Regions from separate parts of the Homo sapiens genome. Here region 2 is linked to region 1. The links come from fine-mapping of genetic effects on gene expression. A gene starts in region 1. The other region holds a variant in brackets. All regions are shown on one strand. Distances are from middle to middle.

What was found. PIP is the estimated chance that this variant, and not a neighbour inherited with it, causes the effect. A credible set is the group of variants that fine-mapping cannot tell apart.
Region 2: its variant is the best candidate, but not a certain one, in a credible set for the expression of MYLK-AS1 in whole blood (TOPMed, PIP 0.68).

Annotation. Positions count from the first base shown.
Region 1 is chr3:123,582,233-123,587,606 of GRCh38, forward strand. MYLK-AS1 (MYLK antisense RNA 1) reads left to right here and starts at 3,281. Exons shown (of 4, transcript NR_121654.1): 1 at 3,281-3,321; 2 at 3,415-3,569. It overlaps HACD2 (3-hydroxyacyl-CoA dehydratase 2), which reads right to left and starts at 2,821. Exons shown (of 7, transcript NM_198402.5): 1 at 2,641-2,821; 2 at 1-97. The coding sequence starts at 2,795. RefSeq lists silencers at 2,146-2,325, 2,336-2,945 and an enhancer at 3,006-3,305.
Region 2 is chr3:123,630,275-123,635,648 of GRCh38, forward strand. The region is part of intron 29 of MYLK (myosin light chain kinase); the gene reads right to left. It overlaps MYLK-AS1 (MYLK antisense RNA 1), which reads left to right. Exons shown (of 4, transcript NR_121654.1): 4 at 222-547. Among named protein-coding and RNA genes, the nearest start is that of MYLK-AS1, 47 kb to the left of the region's middle. RefSeq lists a silencer at 5,048-5,342. The variant C/T (reference allele first, on the strand shown) is at 2,167.

The DNA of each region.
Region 1 (5,374 bases):
AAAGAATTTCAAAGGCTTTTCAATTGAATAATAAAGGCTATGGTAGCTACCCTTAGCCAGGTATGCTCGGACCAGACCAACCGCTATAACCAGCCACCTAGTAAAAGAGAAAACAGCAATCAGGAAAAAATAAAAATAAAAAAAGTAGCATTTAGGTTAACACACAGCTGTGGCAATAAAAGATATTGCTAAAGGTGACCTCAAGCATGAGTAACCTGGATTTATGGACGATAGCTCTCAAATGCCAAGCTGTAATGCACTGAAATGTTGCAACACCGACAGCACCTTACCAAGAGGGCTCAGTGAAAGCATAGTGGCACCTCACCCATCTGGAGCTCATTTTTTTGGCAACTTTGCTATTGAGATCAAGGCCAAAAGGAAAGGAATAAGCTAAAATGGTCCTTGTGCCACTAAATCAGGTGCCAAGAAAATCTAAGACGAGAAAAAAACAGTTAAAGGAAAATTTTAAACAGCCTGTGCAGTTAAAGGGTTTTTAATAATTACAGGGTGGAAAGAAGATGCTTTAAACTATTGTTATAATTGTCTCACTGGAACAATTACCCATACCTTAAAATCTATCCTTTTAAAATTACGAATAAAGGGCTCTTGCTAAAAAAAAAAAGTTTTTTAGCCAAATTTCCTAAAATCAATGCAGAAATGAAAGCCAGATCAATACAAACCACGAAACAGGAAAGCACTTAAGCATACAGCTGTGAATGTTATATTTTTGTTCCACTGTCCTTCTCAAAAATAAACACAATGTTTTGTTAAGTTCCATAATAAAACAAATGGACCTTTTTATTAAGGTATGTCTCCTGGAAGGATTTAGATAAATGTATAGTATCAACTAGGCAATGGGGTGTGTGTGGTCTATGCTATTTCCAAAAACTATCACATAAGGACATCAAGTAAGAGTTTGTAAAAGAAGAAATTATTTAATGGTGTAACTGGTACAACCATTAACAGCCTTAAAAAAAAAGCTTACTTTGCTCTCACAATCCCAATTTATCTTCCTGGTTTAAGATACCACTCCTTACCCTCCACCCCATTCTCTATGTTCATTGCTCAGGAATAGACTTCTTTCTTCTTACCAATGTACCTCAAAATCCCTCTCCAGTCCAATGCCCTCACCGGCTCTTGCTAAGACAACAAGAATTTTATATATAAATATTAATACACACAGTGAGATTCCTGGATGTTTTTTTAAAAATCAATCTATGTGACCACTGATGTGATATAAAGCTTGTATCTGTACTAGTTCTTCATTGACCTGTGAGTCAAGAGAAATGATTTCTAGATCTGGAACTTCTACTAACAAGTTCTATGATCTCATGCAAGTCACAACTTCTCTGAGCCTAGGTTCCAACACCTACCATTTCTAATACTAGCAATACATATATGATCCTCCCACGATATATTTTCTTCTTCGTGAAAAAAAAGCAAGGTGCTGAACTGTAAAAATATTAATATATTGGCATTTGTCTTATTTTAAAAAGGGATAGGGGGATGTATAAACATATTTGCTTGCATCAGCATCTTAAGGATACACAAAATTAACTGCCTCGAGGGAGGGGAGCTGGGTAGAAGGGAAAGGTGGGAGGAAAGATTTTCACTGTATTCCCTCATGTTTTTCATTTTTAACCCTAACAATGTATCACCTACTTTAAATAAAAATGGATGTTCACTATACAATTCTTTCAACTCTTCTGTATGTTTGAAATTTTTCATAATAAAATGTTAGGACTTCTTAAAAAATTACAAATGAAGATAACTTAAAAATATATAACTGTCTGATGCTGTGATCCTCCTCACCAAAATGACAAGATAAAGAATTGCAGAGCTGAAGGAACCTTCATCACCCAGACCAACCCTTTAGTTTTACAAATGAAAAAACGGAGGCTAGAGAAATAAGATGATTTATCCAAAGTCACACAGCTAGTTAGTGGCAGAGCTTGAACTAAAAACCCGCCGGGATAAGGGATGCACTGAAATGAAAGAGACAGAAGATGGGTAAAACCGTTTCGAGGGTCCATTCTCCCCCTTTCCAGTAACTCTGCCTTCTACTCCCCAGTTTCTTCCCCACCCCAACCCATCCTAAAAGTCTAAACTCATCTAAAGCCTAGCTCTGCTCATGTCGCTGGCCAAAAACTTTGAACGCTTTCCCAATACCTTTCAGATTAAAGCGCAGCCCAGATTTTGAAAACAGCCGCCCAAATGAATGGTCACTCTGCAGCCACAGCTCCTCCACTCCCCATGCTGGCGCCGTTCAACATCCGAATCTGGCCGCCCAGGACGGGCTCCGCGCCGCAGGTAGTCCGGCCGCTGCCCCCGGCCCCGCACCTGTGGCCAGCCCCACCTTTCCTCCCGCGGCCCTCGCGAGCCAGCGCCCGGCAGCCGTCCCCGCGCCCCAGTGCCTGGGAACTTGGCTCGACCCCCAGCGCAGGAGGGAGCTCGCGGGCAGCCACCGGGGCCGATTCAGCGCTCGGCCGCCCTCAGCGCCCAGGTACCGGGTCCCGGGCACCCCCCGCCGGGAATGCACTGCCTGCGGCGGGCCGCGCCGATCCTATCCGCCCCGCCGCTGGCCGCAGGGCTCCCTCCCCGGCCGCGCTGGCTCCCCGCCTCCCCGAGCCCCAGCCTCACCCGGCTGTCATCACCACATTGTAGATGACCAGGTACGCCGTGGCCAGGGGCCCCGGGCCCTTCTTCTTCCGCGTGCCGCTGGCGTCCCCGGCCCCGGCCCTGCCACCGCCGCCCCCATTCCCCTTCGCTGCTGCAGTCGCCGCCACTGCCGCCATGTCAAGTGCCCGAAGCCCGCTCTCCTAGCGCGAGCGGCTCGGGCCGGACTACGCGAGGAGAGGGGGCGGAGGAAGGGACGAGGGGCAGGCGGGGCCAGGGCCGCGGGGCGGAGCCGGGACAGGGTCCACGGCAGCCGCCATCTTGGCTGAGGGCAAAGACGCTCCTGGCGCTCCCGTCTTTCGGCTTGCCTCAGTTGCCACTGCCATCTTGGATCAGGGTAATTCCCGCCTCTTGGGCGCTCCCGGTTACAACCTCGGCGCCATCTTGGATTAGTTCAATGTAGCCACCCTCTCCAGGCCCGCTGCTTCTGCCAGCTGGATGTTGCGTCGTCCCTCGCTATTCGCCCTCCTATAATCACTGCTTCCATGTTGAATCAAAACAATTATGCTTTCGTTCTCCCTTCTTCAATTGCCCTATCTTCACACCTGAACACTATTGCTCCGGTATCCTGCCATTTTGGATCAGGGCGGTTGACGGTGGATTCACTTCCCATCAGCCCTTGAGGCTGCAGGGACCAGCCCTTTGGTAGGTGCGCTTTGCTTCCTAACCCGTTGCCGGGTTGGAGATTCCACCTCCGAAGTTTTCTTTCTGACTTTTGATTTTACATTCCTAGTACAGTGGAGAAGCCCAGGCGGCCTAGAATCCAGTGTCGTCCGTGAGTGCTTGGCTGGTGTTCAAGTGCATCTTCCAGCCTGAGACCGCGTGGACTCGCTCATCGTGAGGGCGAGAGGAGGATAAGCCCATTGGGCTGTCGGCTGAGAGTGAGGTGCGGGGTAAGGGAGTAGATTTATAGCTATAGTGACTAAAAATAAAAGGATGTTGGCTTAGGTGGAAAACCTCTCTGCTTTGGGAAGCTGGAGCAGCTTGTGGGCATTGCTTCAACCAGCTGATCCCACTTTCCATTCATTGCTTTGTTTCAGGAGGTTCTTTATTTGTAAACGTCCCCTGCAATTTTTTACACACCCAAGCAGCTCCTTAAATGTATTACTGTATATGTGGTAGTATAAAATATTTATGGGTTCATTCCAGCAAGTGTTTATGGAGCGTCCACAAAGTTGCCCTGGAGTTCATGGCACTAAGTGAAAGAGACAAAGTCGTCAGTCTCCCAGGGATTATATAGAGCAGCGGCCCCCAACCTTTTGGTCAACAGGGACCGGTTTCGTGGTGGGGGGGTGGATGATGGTTTCAGGATGATTCAAAGGCATTACATTTATCATTAGATTCTCATAAGGAGCACACAACTTAGATCCCTCCAATGCGCAGTTCACAATAGGTTCCCCGCTCCTATGAGAATCTGATGCCACCGCTGATCTGAGGGAGGCGGAGCTCAGGAGGTAATGCTCCCTTGCTTGCTGCTCACCTCCTGCTGTGCCTCCTGGTTCCTAACAGGCCAGGGATTGGTTCTATCCGCAGCCTGGGGCTTAAGGACCCCTGAGGGAACCAGACGAAAATGCTCGTATTAGTTGGTGAAAAGTGGTATCAGGAAGTTATTACAATAATCCAGCCATGGTGATAGTGGTGTGGGCCAGAGTGGTGGAAATCGAGGTGATGAAAACAACAATGAATTCTGTGCGTATTTTAGAAGTAGAATTATAAGATTTGTGGATATGTTAGTTTTGGAGTGTGAGGTCAAAGGCGTTTTGAGCAACTTGTAAGAAACCATTTTTAAGGCGGAAGTCGGGAATTTTGTTTTTTATATGTTGAATTTGAAATCCTTATTAAACATCCAAGTGGAGAGGCTGGATAGACAATTAAATTTAGACCCTGAGGTTCGGGAAGGAAGTCCAATGGGCTAGAGATATAAATTTGAGAGTTGTCAACCTAAAATAATAAAAAAGGTAAGAATCTAGTTTAAAGGAAGTTTATTCAAGCATAAAGGTTGAAGATGGCTACCTGGGAGCATAGATTCAAGTTACCCTAAATATACACTCTGATTAGCAGCGGTTATGAGTGGGTTTTTAAAGGAAAAAGAGGCAGCTTCTAAGTTGTTTACTAAGAATTTACATTAAAATTACATTAGCTATTGATTGGCTATAAACTATTCTTTGTATCACAGATTCCAGGAACATGAAGATAATGGGTGAGGCTGCTAGTCAGGAACAAAATGTCTAAACAGTTGCCCCCAGGCAAACTCTTGTCTCTGGGCCTGATAAATTTTTGCATACTTCACATAGCTCAGACAGCTCAGAGCTGTTTGAGGTATTATCTTTTCTCAGAGTTCTGAGGGTGGTGGTGGTATTTAAATCCATGACACTGTAATCACCCAATACGTTCTTCCTTCCCACTGCACAGACAAAATCAATTCATAGAGACCATGGCATTGCAATAAAGAATTTAATTGACATGAGATAGGTCTTGGAGATGGAGTTATTACTCCAAATCTCCCCCAAAATTCAGAGGGTAGGGTTTTTCAAGAATAGTTTGGCTAAGATCTGAGAGCTATAGTCAAAACAAAACAAAACAAAACACCCACCCCCCCCCCAACACACACACAGTTTGGCAGGCAGGAGGCTGGAGGAATGGGTGCTGCTGATTGGTTGGGAATGCAATTATAGGGGTGTGGAAAATGGTCCCCCTG
Region 2 (5,374 bases), 48 kb after region 1:
AATTCCCTGATCTGTGTCAGTTTTCTCCTCTAAAATGGAGAAGCTGCCATTTAACTATAGGGTGGTCACTTCTTCATCCTCATCATCATCATGATGGCAGCAGACATTCATTGAGGTTTTTCTATGTGCCAGGCACTGGGTCAAGTGCCTAAAACAAGTGAACTCACTTAATCTTAACACTGCCCTATGATGCAAGTAATTCTTATAACTTTGTTTTACAGATGAGGGAATTGAGGCACAGCCCAGGCTCAAGTCACCTGCCCAAAGATTCACAGCCAGTGAGATTGGAAGCCAGGTATCTGCCTCTAGAGCCTGTCCTCTTAAATGCTATACTATCCTAACATTTCTGTAAAGATGAAGTAAATTGCAGTGTTCAGCACTGGCACCAGGCCTGGTCCACAGTAAGGAGGCGGTCCATGCCCGGAGATCTCATGCAGTTCTGCTGGGTTCCCTCCACTGCCTTACCAAGCTGTGAGTGCAGGAATGACTTTGTGACCAGCAGCTTAAGCCAAATAAACTTTATAAGGTAAAGAATTTCAAAACAAAATAGAGCAGATTTGTGGCTTACTGACCTTACCTCTCACCTCTGTGCACCTCACCTTCATAGCAACAACTCACCCCACTGTTCATGAGGGCCTTGTGAGTCAGCCTCATGGGTGTTAGACCAGCACAGTTGCCCACAGTCCCACCCTTAGACAGGCCCTGTGCTTGGTTTAATGCTCTGCTGCTGTCGTCTCAAGATTCTCAATAAGGTTTGAACAAGTGGCCCCACCTTTCATGTTGCAAATTGTGTAGCTGTTCCTGCCCTGATCTCAGCTGAGCCCCATGAGATGGGTCTGGGGGCCAGGCGTGGTGGCTCATGCCTGTAATCCCAGCACTTTGGGAGGCCAAAATGGATGGATCACCTGAGGTCAGGAGTTTGAGGCTAGCCTGGCCAACACGGTGAAGTCCTGTCTCTACTAAAAATACAAAAATTAGCTGGGCATGGTGGCAAGCACCTGTAATCCCAGCTACTCGGGAGGCTGAGGCAGGAGAATTGCTTGAACCCTGGAGGTGGAGGTTGCAGTGAGCCAATATCGCACCATTGCACTCCAACCTGGGCAACAAGCGAAACTCAATCTCAAAAAAAAAAAAAAAAAGAGAGATGGGTCTGGGGCCCTCCTGCCATCAACCTGTCAAGTTAGGGCTTTACCAATGTCCCTTCTCCCAAATGCTTATGAATCCATCATCATAAGCCAAGCACTGACAGCTTCAGGAGTAAGGCTTTGGTTGAGTTTGACAGAACAAACCCCACTTGAAATATTGGGAGAAAAAGCTTGCCATGGGAGGAACCCTCTGGTGAAACCTTTTGTAAAGAGAAGAAAGCTTTTACAATGTGAATTGTCTCATCCTAATCAACATATTTGTGTTTCTGAATAATAGATCTTTGTGGATGGGATTTTTTTTTAAAGCAAGACCCTGATTTATGTTTTAAGAAGGCAAAGAGAATCATTCTCGGTCATGTCCCCATGAGGGAAGGGTGGGCATTTACCTGTCCCCGAGTCTGCACTGTTATCTGCTGCTCCTTTCCCCTCTCTGGGCCTCAGTTTCTCCTTTTTCTTTTTTTTTTTTTTGAGACAGAGTGTTGCTCTGTTGCCCAGGCTGGAGTGCAGTGGTGCGATCTCTGCTCACTGCAAGCTCTGCCCCCTGGGTTCATGCCATTCTCCTGCCTCAGCCTCCCGAGTAGCTGGGACTACAGGTGCCCACCACCACACCCAGCTATTTTTTTTGTATTTTTAGTAGAGACGGGGTTTCACAGTGTTCGTCAGGATGGTCTCGATCTCCTGACCTCGTGTCGTGATCTGCCTGCCTCGGCCTCCCAAAGTGCTGGGATTACAGGCATGAGCCACCGCGCCTAGCCAGCTTCTCCTTTTATACATCAAGGGGACTAGGCTAGATTTCCTAGGGGCCTCCCAGCTCTCTCTGTCTCTGTGACCCCGACCCCCACGTGGCCCATGCAAGCCCCATCAGGAAGCAGCCTGTCTCTTGCCTGTCAGCCACCTGCTGCTTCTTTACATTTTCCACTGGAAACAGAGAGGGGGGAAGTCCGGCAGTACTCCAAAAGATGGCAGGAAAAGCAAACAACCCTGCTGTGGAATGCAGAAAGTTCCCCTTCTGCAAACCTCC[C/T]TTCCTTATTAGGAACTATAATCCTGCAAAGATAGGTCTTAATCTCTGCAACTCTGGGCACAGTCAGGGAGAGCCTCCTCGCCTCTGGCCTCTGGCACTCCTCCTTCCTGGCAGCCTATCCATCTGAAATACTCTCCTCACCCTGCCTGGCTCCTTGCCTGCCCAAGTTCCCCCAGCATTCTTCCTATTAAAGAGCATGTGTCTGGAATAAAAAATATAATACATACACAGCATGTTGACAAAGAGGGTGTTTGAATTTTCAGTAATGCTGTTGCTGGGTGGTGGGGTTTTACAGGATTTTTAAAAACCTTTTTGGGGAACTTTTTCTTTGTGGCAGAATTTGCATAAGGGATCATGTCTTTTAATTTTTTTTTTTTTTTTTGAGATGCGGTCTTGTTCTATTGCCCAGGTTGGAGTGCAGTAGTGCGATCTCAGCTCACTGAACCTCTGGCTCAAGCGATCCTTCCACCTCAGTCTCCTGAGTAGCTGGAACCACAGGTGCGCGCCAACACACCTGGCTAATTTTTTGTATTTTGGTAGAGATGGGGTTTCACCATGTTGCCCAGGCTAGTCTCAAATTCCTGAGCTTAAGCAATCCTCCCACCTCTGCCTCCCAAAGTGCATTACAGGCATGAGCCACTGTGCCCAGCCTTGTCTTTTTATTTATAAAATAGTCATTATTATTATTTCTTTTTATTTTTTTGAGACAGAGTCTCGCTCTGTCACCCAGGCTGGAATACAGTGGCGTGATCATGGCTCATTGCAGCCTCAACCTCCCCAGGCTTAGGTGACCCTCCCACCTAAGCCACCCAAGTAGCAGGGACCACAGGCGCACGCCACCATGCCCAGCTACCTTATGTATTTCTTGCAGAGATGGGGTTTTGCCATGTTGCCCAGGCTGGTCTCAAACTCCTGGGCTCAGGCCATCCACTCACCTTGGCCTCCCAAAGGGCTGGGAGTATAAGCATGAGCCACTGCGCCCAGCTAGATAACAGTCATTATTTGTTAAAAAAATCAACCGGTCAACAAATAATGTTAGCATTAAAACACCTCTTTATCTCCCTGGTCTTATCTAGTTTTTAACTAATGGATTGATCTGTTTTTCACAAAACTATAATCAGTCTGGGCAAGTCCTTGGATGCTTTACTTTTTCTTCACTGGATGTATCAAGTACAGCCAGACTCTACATGTTGATTTTTAGTGGTCAAATATTAGTCTTTGTGCTGATGAAACACAATGGTCATGAATGCAGGGCATTCTAATTTCTTAATTCTCAGCTCATTGCCAAAGAAATTCCCCCAGGGAATCTGATGTGGAAGCCTGTTTGGCTGTGGGGGCAGAAGGTTAGGAGAGCAGAGGGTGCAGAAATGCCTCTTGGACTACACTTTCTGTGTGTGTGTGTGCGTGTATGTGTGTGGGTTTTAAGAAATGGGGGTCTCGCTATATCAGCCAGGCTGGTCTTGAACTCCTGATCTCAAGTGATCCTCCCATCATAGCCTCCTGAGTAGCTGGGACCACAGGTGCACACTACTGCACCTGGCTTCTGTGTTGTGTTTCAAGCAGCAGACAGATGCCCCGACTGTACCAGTGGCCAGCTAAGGGGACCACACATCTGCTGATGGAACTACTGACTGCTAGGAAGGGGTTAGTCTTTTATCCATATTAGCCATCTGATACTCTGGTGGGAGAGCTGAGAGGGCTGAGTAGGTCCACAGGAAGAGCTGTGCATCATTTTGTGGACTGGCCGAGGAAGCAGCGACCTGGGGTTTAGTTGTGTTAGTAAAAGTTGAAGGTGGTGGCCGGGCTTGGAGAGGGAACAGGGATCCTAGGGCTGGAATCAGAGCGTATTTCCAGGCTCAGCAGCAGAGAGGGCAGCGGCAGCCCCAGGTGGGGAAGGCAGAGGTTACTGGATCTGGCTGAGGAGCCCTGCAGTCAGACCCTGGTCTGAGGAGGCCCCCGATGCCCCGGCACTGTGACCCCTCCTCAGCTGACTGGGCAGCTGTCACCAGAAGAGCTGACCTGCCTCCCCACCATACACACCTCTCCTCCCTCCTGGCATCTCCCGACCACACACCAGGGTGGGGAGGGACAGCTGACAGCTGTCTGCACCACGGTGGGTGTTGGACAAACAAACAAGCATGAATGGGAAGGCTGTGCTGCTGGGCCTGGTCAGGAAGAGGCAGGAGGAGGAAGCAGAGCAGCCATTGCTGGTTCGCTCTGGCTTGAGGGAGGCTGGGAGAGAAGGCATTGTGGAGTAGGGTGAGGGAAGGGCTCGGAGAAGAGCTGTTGTGGCCTCCCCACAGGCAGCAAGGAAGTACCAAGTCCAGGAAGTAGGGGAGGGAGACAGCAGGGGGAGGAGGGCTCTTAAACGGAGGTGGACTTAGGATTTCTCCCGTATGGAAGTGTGGCCTCCAGCTCTCTGGTATTCTCACTTCCTGCCAGAAACCACATGGGTATTGCTAACTTCAGAAGGTCTCTAGGTACTCACACAACCTACTATCTCCTTTCAGGATCCGGGGTAAGAGTGTGGGGGCTCCACGACCCCATTCTGCTCCTTCCCTATAGGGCCAGAAACTGCCCTGATGGCTGGGCTGGGTGGGAGAGAGTAAAGTCACATCGTCCTATGGTGACACGGTCTGTTGCCTTCCCTTCCAACTCCCTGGCCTCTCCATCTCTCACTGGCCCCAGAAAGGAGAACAGGAGGGGCTCTGTGGTACAAAGGTGGAAGTCGCCCTGACAGGGACTGCCCGACAGATGACTAGGCTCCAAAGAGAGGGATAGAGTGGGCCAGAGGATGCCATGAGGGCCACCAGAGAGCCTCTTTTGGGTGCTCCCAGCAGTGGCTCCAGAGTTCTGCATAGCAGGCGCTTAAAGGAAACCATCTCCTTGGCGCCAATGTTTGTTTTCAGCACCGCTCTCTGTTGAGAGCCCTGGCTTGCCGGGGGAACTCCCTGACTTCCATCCATGCTGAGAGAGCCAGGCTGGAAAAGCCCCAGAGGGCAGTGGCTCACAGTGGGGGTCCAGGAGCTAAGATGTGGCACAGGATTGATCCAGCCTGAGTCAGTGCCACCTGGCCTGGGTCCTTGCCACACACACACCCCTCCTCCCTCCTGACAACCCTCTGCCCAAGCACTGGCAGCATCAAAACTATCTTCTCCCCATTTCCAAAACTCTGCCCTAGTTCTTGGTCTTTGCTTTAAAAGTAATC